Homo sapiens: one gene and its partner. The protein of the gene in region 2 interacts with the protein of the main gene of each other region in a pairwise test. Each region holds a gene or a part of one and is shown on either strand. Other genes may lie near its edges.

Region 1 (3,812 bases), on a different chromosome or scaffold from region 2:
TCCAAATCTTGTCCGCCTTCCCCTTTACAAATGTGACATTTAAAGCACCTTTGGCACAGGTAAATCACAATTACATTTTCAAGGGCCTCTGGTCCCATTCCAAATCTGTGAACAACCTGAGCTGGCAGTGGGAGGGCTCTCTCTCACACACACACACACACACACACACACACACACACACACACACACGGCTCCAGCCTTTCCAACTTTTATTCCTTTTCCGCACAGCTCCTTCTCATTGCAGCAATCACTTTACCTGTCTTTCCTGCAATGCCAATTCATTCCCACATCCCTCCAAGACCCAGGAGAGCTTGGGGAAGCAGGGTCAGGGACAGAATCCCCAAAGGGTCACAGTCCCTTGAGGAAGGTGGCAAGAGGTGTAGATCAAAGCTGAGCTGGGACAAAAGGCTGCTTTGAGCCTCTCTGGGTGAGCTCTTCAGGAACCAGGACCCCAGAAGGGCAAGCTCCTCTCTCCACGGCCATCGCCATGGAGGGATCCTCCAAGCTCCCACTTTCTGTGATTTCAGAGTCCCTCAGACTCGGCCGATGGGTCATTTTTCATGTATATTTTCTCTTGATTCCCCTCCTTCATGGCTGCATATCTGGCTAGCGTGAAGAGATAGTCACTGAGTCTGGAGGGGCAGAGAGAGAGAAGCAAACAGAATGGTTTGAAATGAGAGATCAACGCTAACTGGGTCTTCCCATATCCGCCTACAAGGAGGAGATATAAATGACGCACTCTGGGCACATTGTGCAGGGAGGGCGGGGGCCCAGCCATCTTGCACTTAATGGATGGCACACGAGGCCAGCTGCTGTGAATGCCAAGGACTCTACTCCAGTGTCAAGGCTGGGGCCATTCCTGCAGGATGAGGCCATTGCCCCGGCCCTACCCCATGGGGCAGATGACTTTGGACTCCTCTCTGAGCCGGTTTTTGCACCTTTGAGTGATCAGGGCTCAGGTGCGTGATCAGTTTGGGTGTTTCCCAAACTACAGTGTGCACAGGCATCACCAGGGGATCTCAGCGACGTGCAGATTCTGACTCAGGAGGGCTGGGCTGGGCTGGGCCCGGGGCTCTGCAGGTCTAGTTCCTGCCCTGGCTGATGCTGACACTGCTGGACTAGGCCCTACTGACATTCTGGATCATTCTGTGTGTTCGGGGCTGTCCTGTGCATCCTGTGCAGTGTAGGATGCTGACAGCACCTTTGGTCTCCACCCACCAGGTGCCAGTGGCACCCCTGCACCCAGTGTGACAACTAGTAATGCCTCCAAACATCGCCAAAGGTACCGGGTGAGAAGCACAGGCTGGAGCACTCTAGAGACCAGAGCCCAGCCCCTTTCCCGCCTCCTCCTTTGAACCAACAGCAATGGTCATCTGTGCATGAGGCCTTCTGCAGGGGCAGCAGTGGAGGGAACTAGAGGACGACGCCACGGGCCCCAGAAGGCGCTTACGCTGTCAGCTCTTCTGCCTTCTGCTGTCCGCACCTTTTGCTGTTTCACTCCCAGCACGAGGCACCACGTTCCTCCCTCTCTCTCTGCCCCAGTCTTGCCCTCAGAGGCCAGCTCCACACCACATCCTCCTGAGTCCTCCCCTGACTCAGGCCCCCTGGGCCCCACGGCTGGCTCTCAGGAAGAGCGAAGGGGAGGTTGTTCAGGGTATTTTACCCCTGGGCCGCATGCTCCTGGAGGGCAGTGGTGTGCCTGTTGCTTGTTGGCTCTGTGAAGCCTCACTGAGGAGATGAAATGGCCTGTCCCGTGCAATGCTATGGGACCGCAGGGTTGCTGCTTTGAAGGTGAAGTAGACCTGCTCCTCACTCCCGGCGAAACCCCCCTCCCAGAAGGAAAGGAGCTGCTCAGGACCCGTCAAAGCGCCATGTCTCTGGGAGGAGTGGCCACAGTCAAGGGCCTGAGGTCACTTTCTAGACACCCAGGACAGCTCCTGGGGTGCAGACCTGCTCCCCCAGCTCTCTACCTGCCCCCAGGCTCTGGCCTTGCCCACACTGATGCCACAGAAGCCAGGGCTGGGGCAGGAACCCGCAGAGCAGGCTTTGGGCCAGGTGTGGCTCCAGCCTCATGGGCCGGCCGCGAGGCAGAGGAAGCCCTCCCTGGGCTAGCCTGGCTCACTGGGGCCTGCATGGGGTCCCCTGAGCGCAGCTTGGCCCGGCTCTCTTGTTGGTTCATGCTGCCGCAGGCCCTCTCGGGGACAGGAAACTGGCTGAGAGAGGGCCTGAAGCCTGGCTCCCTGGTCAGTCACCACCGAGAGGCCTCCCCTGAGCACCCAGCCTCTAAGAACGCCCTTTGCCCCCGCAATGCCACTTTGCACTTAGGTTTTTCTTCCTGGTTTTTACAGCAGCCTCTCCCAATAAGATCTAAATCTTATCGGGACAGGCACAGGGCCCACCTTGTTCACCACTGCCTCCCCTGTGCCCGGCGTGGTGCCTGGCACAGAGCAGATGTTCATAAACACTAAGGGAATGAAGGAGGGGGTGCGGGAATGCTGCCCCACACTGCTTCCCGGACCGCTGCACCGCTGCTACTTCCCACAGATGAGCCTCGGCTTTCAGAGAGGAACCCCCAGGTTCCACGCGAGTACCTGTTTAAGAACTTGGCCACGTTCGCATCGGTCTCTCCCATCTGGACAAGAGGCACCACACTAGAAAGGGAGGAGACACTGAGTCACGTGACATTATGGGGCTCAACAGGCTCTGACCTGGGCCTAAACCTTGAGCAGCATTTCACATCCTGCCACCGCTCAACCTGAACCTGCACAGGCTCGGCCGGCAGTGGAGATGACAAATCCATCACAGGTGGGTTTAAACAGGCCATCGGCCCCCTTTCCACCAGCACATCGCAGGACGGCCTGGCCAAGGAGGGATCAAGGATGGCTGGTGAGTTGAGGGAGCCACCTGGCCTACACCACACCCCAGCCAGCCAGCTTTTGTACCACTGGACCTGGGTCTGGGTGGGGTGAAGTTGGGGTGGTCTGCCTCTAGCCTTCAAAGGAAGTGGGGGCCTGACCCTTAATTCCCAATGGGCTAAACTCTAAGCCCCTTGTACATCATGACTTAGAACAACTTCACAGGGGAGAAAAAGACCCAGGCAGACCAAGCTCCTGATTCCGCAGGATTCTGGATTCCTGGGGTCCATGCCAGTCTATTTGCAGATACATTAGACACTGGACGGCCATCTGCTGGGCACCAGTGTGGTGGCGGGCCCTTGCCGAGCCTTTCCCAGGTATCACCCTGTGGCATACCCCTTGTTGGCAAGCCAGCTACCCAAAGCCCAGCCTCAGGGTTCTCATCCCCACCCAAAGCCATGCACCCGGCTAGCGGCCCAGGAGGGTGTGCACCCAGGCCTGTCACAGAGCTCCAGGCTGTCTCTAGTGGGCACCGCATGCTCAGCGAGGAGCTTCCTCACCCGAGGTGCCCCAGGTGTGTGTCCCCACCTCAGGACAATCTGCACCTTGCCACTGCCATGGCTGCGTAACTCTCTGCTGCATGGAGGACCTATCAGCTGCTCCGCCATGCCTGTTTTCGGGGCCTTTGGGTTGTTTCCAGTTTCTTGCTATTATGAGCACTGCTGATGGATGGCTTTGTACAAATGACAGTTTTTTCTTTTGAAGCCAAAGCTTGTTCTGTTACCTGGGATCTCTAAGGAGCTATCTGGGCCCGAGAGCCTTTCATAAAGAACAAAACCTTAGTGGTGTGGGACCGTGGAAGAGCTCAGGCTTGGCCCAGACAGACGTGGACTCCAATCTGGATTCTGCTATCAACCATGTGGGGGACCGTGACCATGGTGTCATTTCTCTGAGCCA
Region 2 (3,812 bases):
TGTTAAAGTTCTTTACATGCATTGTGTTATTCTTCTCAGTGCATCGGGGTCTTGATGGGAAAAAAATCAAATTCTTGAACTAGAGAGTTAAGAAAAAAGTTTAAATATATAGAGACATTTCATTTTCATTAGTTAGGACAGGTTAAGAGAGTAGATCAACTGAAGAAAAATATAATTAAAAGAACTGCTACGAGTTCCTTAATTTTTATGACTTGGAAGTTTTTCTTGTTTGTTTTTGAGACAGGGTCTTTCTTTGTCACCTAGGCTGCAGTGCAGTGGCATGATCTCAGCTCACTGTAGCCTCAACGTCCTTGGCTCGAGTGACCCTCCTGCCTCAGCCTCCCGAGTAGCTGGAACTATAGGCGTGTGCCACCATGCCCAGGTAACTTTTGTATTTTTTGTAGAGATGGGGTTTCACCATGTTGCCCAGGCTGGTCTTGAACTCCTGAGCTCAAGCAATCTGCCTGCCTTGGCCTCCTAAAGTGTTGGGATTACAGTCGTGAGACACTGCGCCCAGCCAACTTGAAAGTTTTAGTAAGCATTTGATTCAATAACTGTAATTTTAATAGTCTTTATCTAAAAACCCCTAAGGTTAGTCTAAACTGTTACATATAAAAATATTTGAGTATAATCCAAATTTTGTCCAAGAAAATACAAGGTATGTGTCAATGGATTAGGTCATTTGTTCCCCCTCTACAATACTGTGTAGTATTTTTTCGAATGTTCTGAAACTTATGTTTTATTTTAAAACAAAATAGCCAGGCATGCTGGCTCATCCCTGTAAGACCAGCCTGGGCAGCACTGCGAGACACATCTCTACTAAGAATAAAAAAAAATTAGCCAGGTGTGGTGGTGCACACCTGTGGTTCCAGCTTCTCGGGAGGCTGAGGCAGAGGATCACTTGAACCCAGGAGTTCAAGGTTGCAGTGAGCTGTGATTGTGCCACTGCACTCCAGCAGCCTGGGCAACAAAGTGAACCCTTTCTAAAAAAAAAAAGAAGAAAGAAAGAAAAAGGGAGATAAAGAAGAATAGTTTCTGCCTCATGAGGCTCAGCGCCCAGTAAGTGAGTAAGTGAAGAGAAAACTGAGTAAGCACTCAATGCACTGAGATAAGTTAACAGTGGGAAACAAAAGTATTTAATTCAAATAGTGACAGCCACAGAAGGAGTCTGTACCTGACCACAGTTTGGGATTTGCAGGTGTTTGATCGAGAAGAACGGGCACTTCAGGTGGAATTGTGTATTCCAGCAATTATGGGTACCTTAATATGAGGGAGTGAGGTAAGAATGGAGAGGCAGGCAGCAGAGACTTATAACACATTTGTATGCCACACTAAGGAGTATGGCATACAAATTATCCTGAAGGTAATGAAAGGGAACCACTGAAAAGAATCAGAGAATATTACAGTAATTTGATTTACGGAAGACCAGTCTTGGTGCAGTGTAGAGAAAGGACTGGACATGTTGGCATTACAGACATCAGTATGTCCTTCTGAGTAAAACAGACCAGAACCTGAAAGAGCTTCTCCACCTGTTAGCTGTAAGTCCTTAACAAGTTTCTCAACCTCTCTGAGCCCCAATTTCCTTAAATGGAAAGTGGAGACAGTAATATTTACATGTCAGGGTTACTCTGAGAATTAAGAGATAATGGGCCCTGCCCCGCGTCTGCCTCAGAGGGGCCCGAGCCACCCGGGGCGTGCGCCGCGTCCCCGCCGGGGCCGACAGAGCCGAGCCGGGCCGCCATGGACCACAAGACTCTGCTGCAGGAGCGGCCGCCCGCCTACAACCTGGAGGCCGGCCAGGGCGACTACGCGTGAGGCCCGCACGGCTACGGCGCCATCCCCGCCGCGCCCCCGCAGCCGCCCTACTCCTACCTCGTCACACGGACACCCACCCACCATCCCAGGGTCTACAACATCCACAGCTGGACCGTCATCCGCTATCCTACCAACTCTATCGTGGTCGTGGGAGGCTGTCCCGTCTGCAGGGTCGGGGGGCTGCAGGACTGCTTCACCTTCCTGGGCATCTTCCTGGCCATCATCCTGTTCCCCTTTGGGTTCATTTGCTGTTTTGCCTTGAGGGAGCGAAGATGCCCCAACTGTGGAGCCACCTTCGCTTAAAGGGAACACCAGGCTCGGCCTTTCCTACACCCAGCTCTCTTTTTCTAATGTAAATGTTGTGTTCAATAGTTTTATTTGATTAAGCTTCAGGACTGTTTTGTAAAGCGAGGTGGGACCGATGTGGCACACGCCAGCTGCGGTTTCCCGGAGCGTGGAGAGGCAGCGCTGCTGCTCCTGCCCCAGGCTCATGACAACTCAATGAAGCACTGCTTTTATTTTTTGCAGTCTTCAATTTGAGAAAGGTGAGAAATAATCTTTTCAATAAATGAGATTCATACCAAAAAAAAAAAAAAAAAAGAGAGAGATAATGTATACAGCATGCTTACTATGGAGGCTGGCACATGGTAGCTGCTGCACAGTCACTAATGTGAGCTAGACTGTATGCTGCTCAAGGTTAGCTGATGGTCTTACTCCATTTTATACTGGTCCCAAGGCTTAGCACTAGAAATGATTCCCAGGATCCTCAATATAAGTTGGTTGAGTAAATGAAAATAAATATTAAATATATGTCAGTGATATTGCAAAATTAATATCAAGTCTCATTTTAGTTCAAACCAAGACTTGGTTGGAGTGATCCTTTTAGGATCAGAGGCTTTACTTAACTGGCAGAATTGTCTCTACCTAGCTCAAAGATAAGCAGCTAAAAATATAGTACAGAAATCTCAATTTTATAATTTCCTATTGAACAAAGAAATGGCACATTTTCTAACTATCTGATGTTGCGAAAAGTAATATTTTTATTCAAGGCCACAGTCAACATATTGCATGTTGGCAAAGCAAAATTTAAATGTCCTACTTGGGGCCAGGTATGGTGGCTCACGCCTGGAATTCCAGCACTTTGGGAGGCTGGGGCGGGGGTGGATCACCTGAGGTCAGGAGTTCAAGACCAGCCTGACCAACATGGCGAAACCACGTGTCTACTAAAAATACAAAATTAGCCAGGCGTGGTGGCAGGTGCCTGTATTCCCAGCTACTCAGGAGGCTAAGGCAAGAGAATTGTTTAAACCCGGAAGGTGGAGGTTGCAGTGAGCCGAGATTGTGCCATTGCACTCCAGCCTGGGTGACAAGAGCAAAACTCTGTCTCAAAAAGACAAACAAACAAATAAATGTCCTACTCAAGCCTTGTTTGAAATGAATGAATCTCACCTTTAAGAAGAAAGGCATAAAGGAGAGTTTAATTCCACGAGCAAATGCAATGGGTTTTAATTCTTCTCGGAGCTTAACCAGTTCAGTAAGGTCAATCTCATCACAATAACCAAAATGAGGTATCTTCAGGGCTGCAGACATAGTCTTGACCATTGCTTTTTGAAAGCCTGAAAAGCATTAAATTGTTATTCATTTATTTAAATTCTCAAATCTCTTCATCCTTTTTTTTTTTTTTAAAGAAACTAAAATGGAAGGTTCTCTAATGTCTTTTACTCTCTCAGTTAAACCCTTCCTCTTACTACTCTCTTCATTACATTACACTGAAAGTCACTAATTTCAAAGCTGGAACACTGACTGCATCATGACACTCAGTGGCAAATGCAATAACATAGCAGGTAACTGCTTTAAATGCTGTGTTATATAAAAAATTCAAAAGAATGCAAGCCATGTATTTCCCTAACAGCTTTCCTGCAAAGCCACTCTTCTGGAAGTTAATCATTCCAGGAGTTTATAAATAACAAATCAGAACTAGTTATTTTGAAAGCTAA

The links.
Region 1: the proteins of DBT (region 2) and MMAB interact in binary tests that used the Homo sapiens proteins (3 or more experiments, as listed by UniProt).

The regions. Positions count from the first base shown.
Region 1 is NC_000012.12:109,556,505-109,560,316, forward strand, and holds part of MMAB (corrinoid adenosyltransferase MMAB precursor), read right to left. Parts: intron 2,652-3,812; coding exon 2,592-2,651; intron 633-2,591; coding exon 524-632; 3' UTR 1-523. UniProt on the Homo sapiens protein: Converts cob(I)alamin to adenosylcobalamin (adenosylcob(III)alamin), a coenzyme for methylmalonyl-CoA mutase, therefore participates in the final step of the vitamin B12 conversion.
Region 2 is NC_000001.11:100,211,553-100,215,364, forward strand, and holds part of DBT (lipoamide acyltransferase component of branched-chain alpha-keto acid dehydrogenase complex, mitochondrial isoform 1 precursor), read right to left. Parts: intron 3,432-3,812; coding exon 3,265-3,431; intron 2,399-3,264; exon of another isoform or gene 1,671-2,398; intron 1-1,670. UniProt on the Homo sapiens protein: The branched-chain alpha-keto dehydrogenase complex catalyzes the overall conversion of alpha-keto acids to acyl-CoA and CO(2).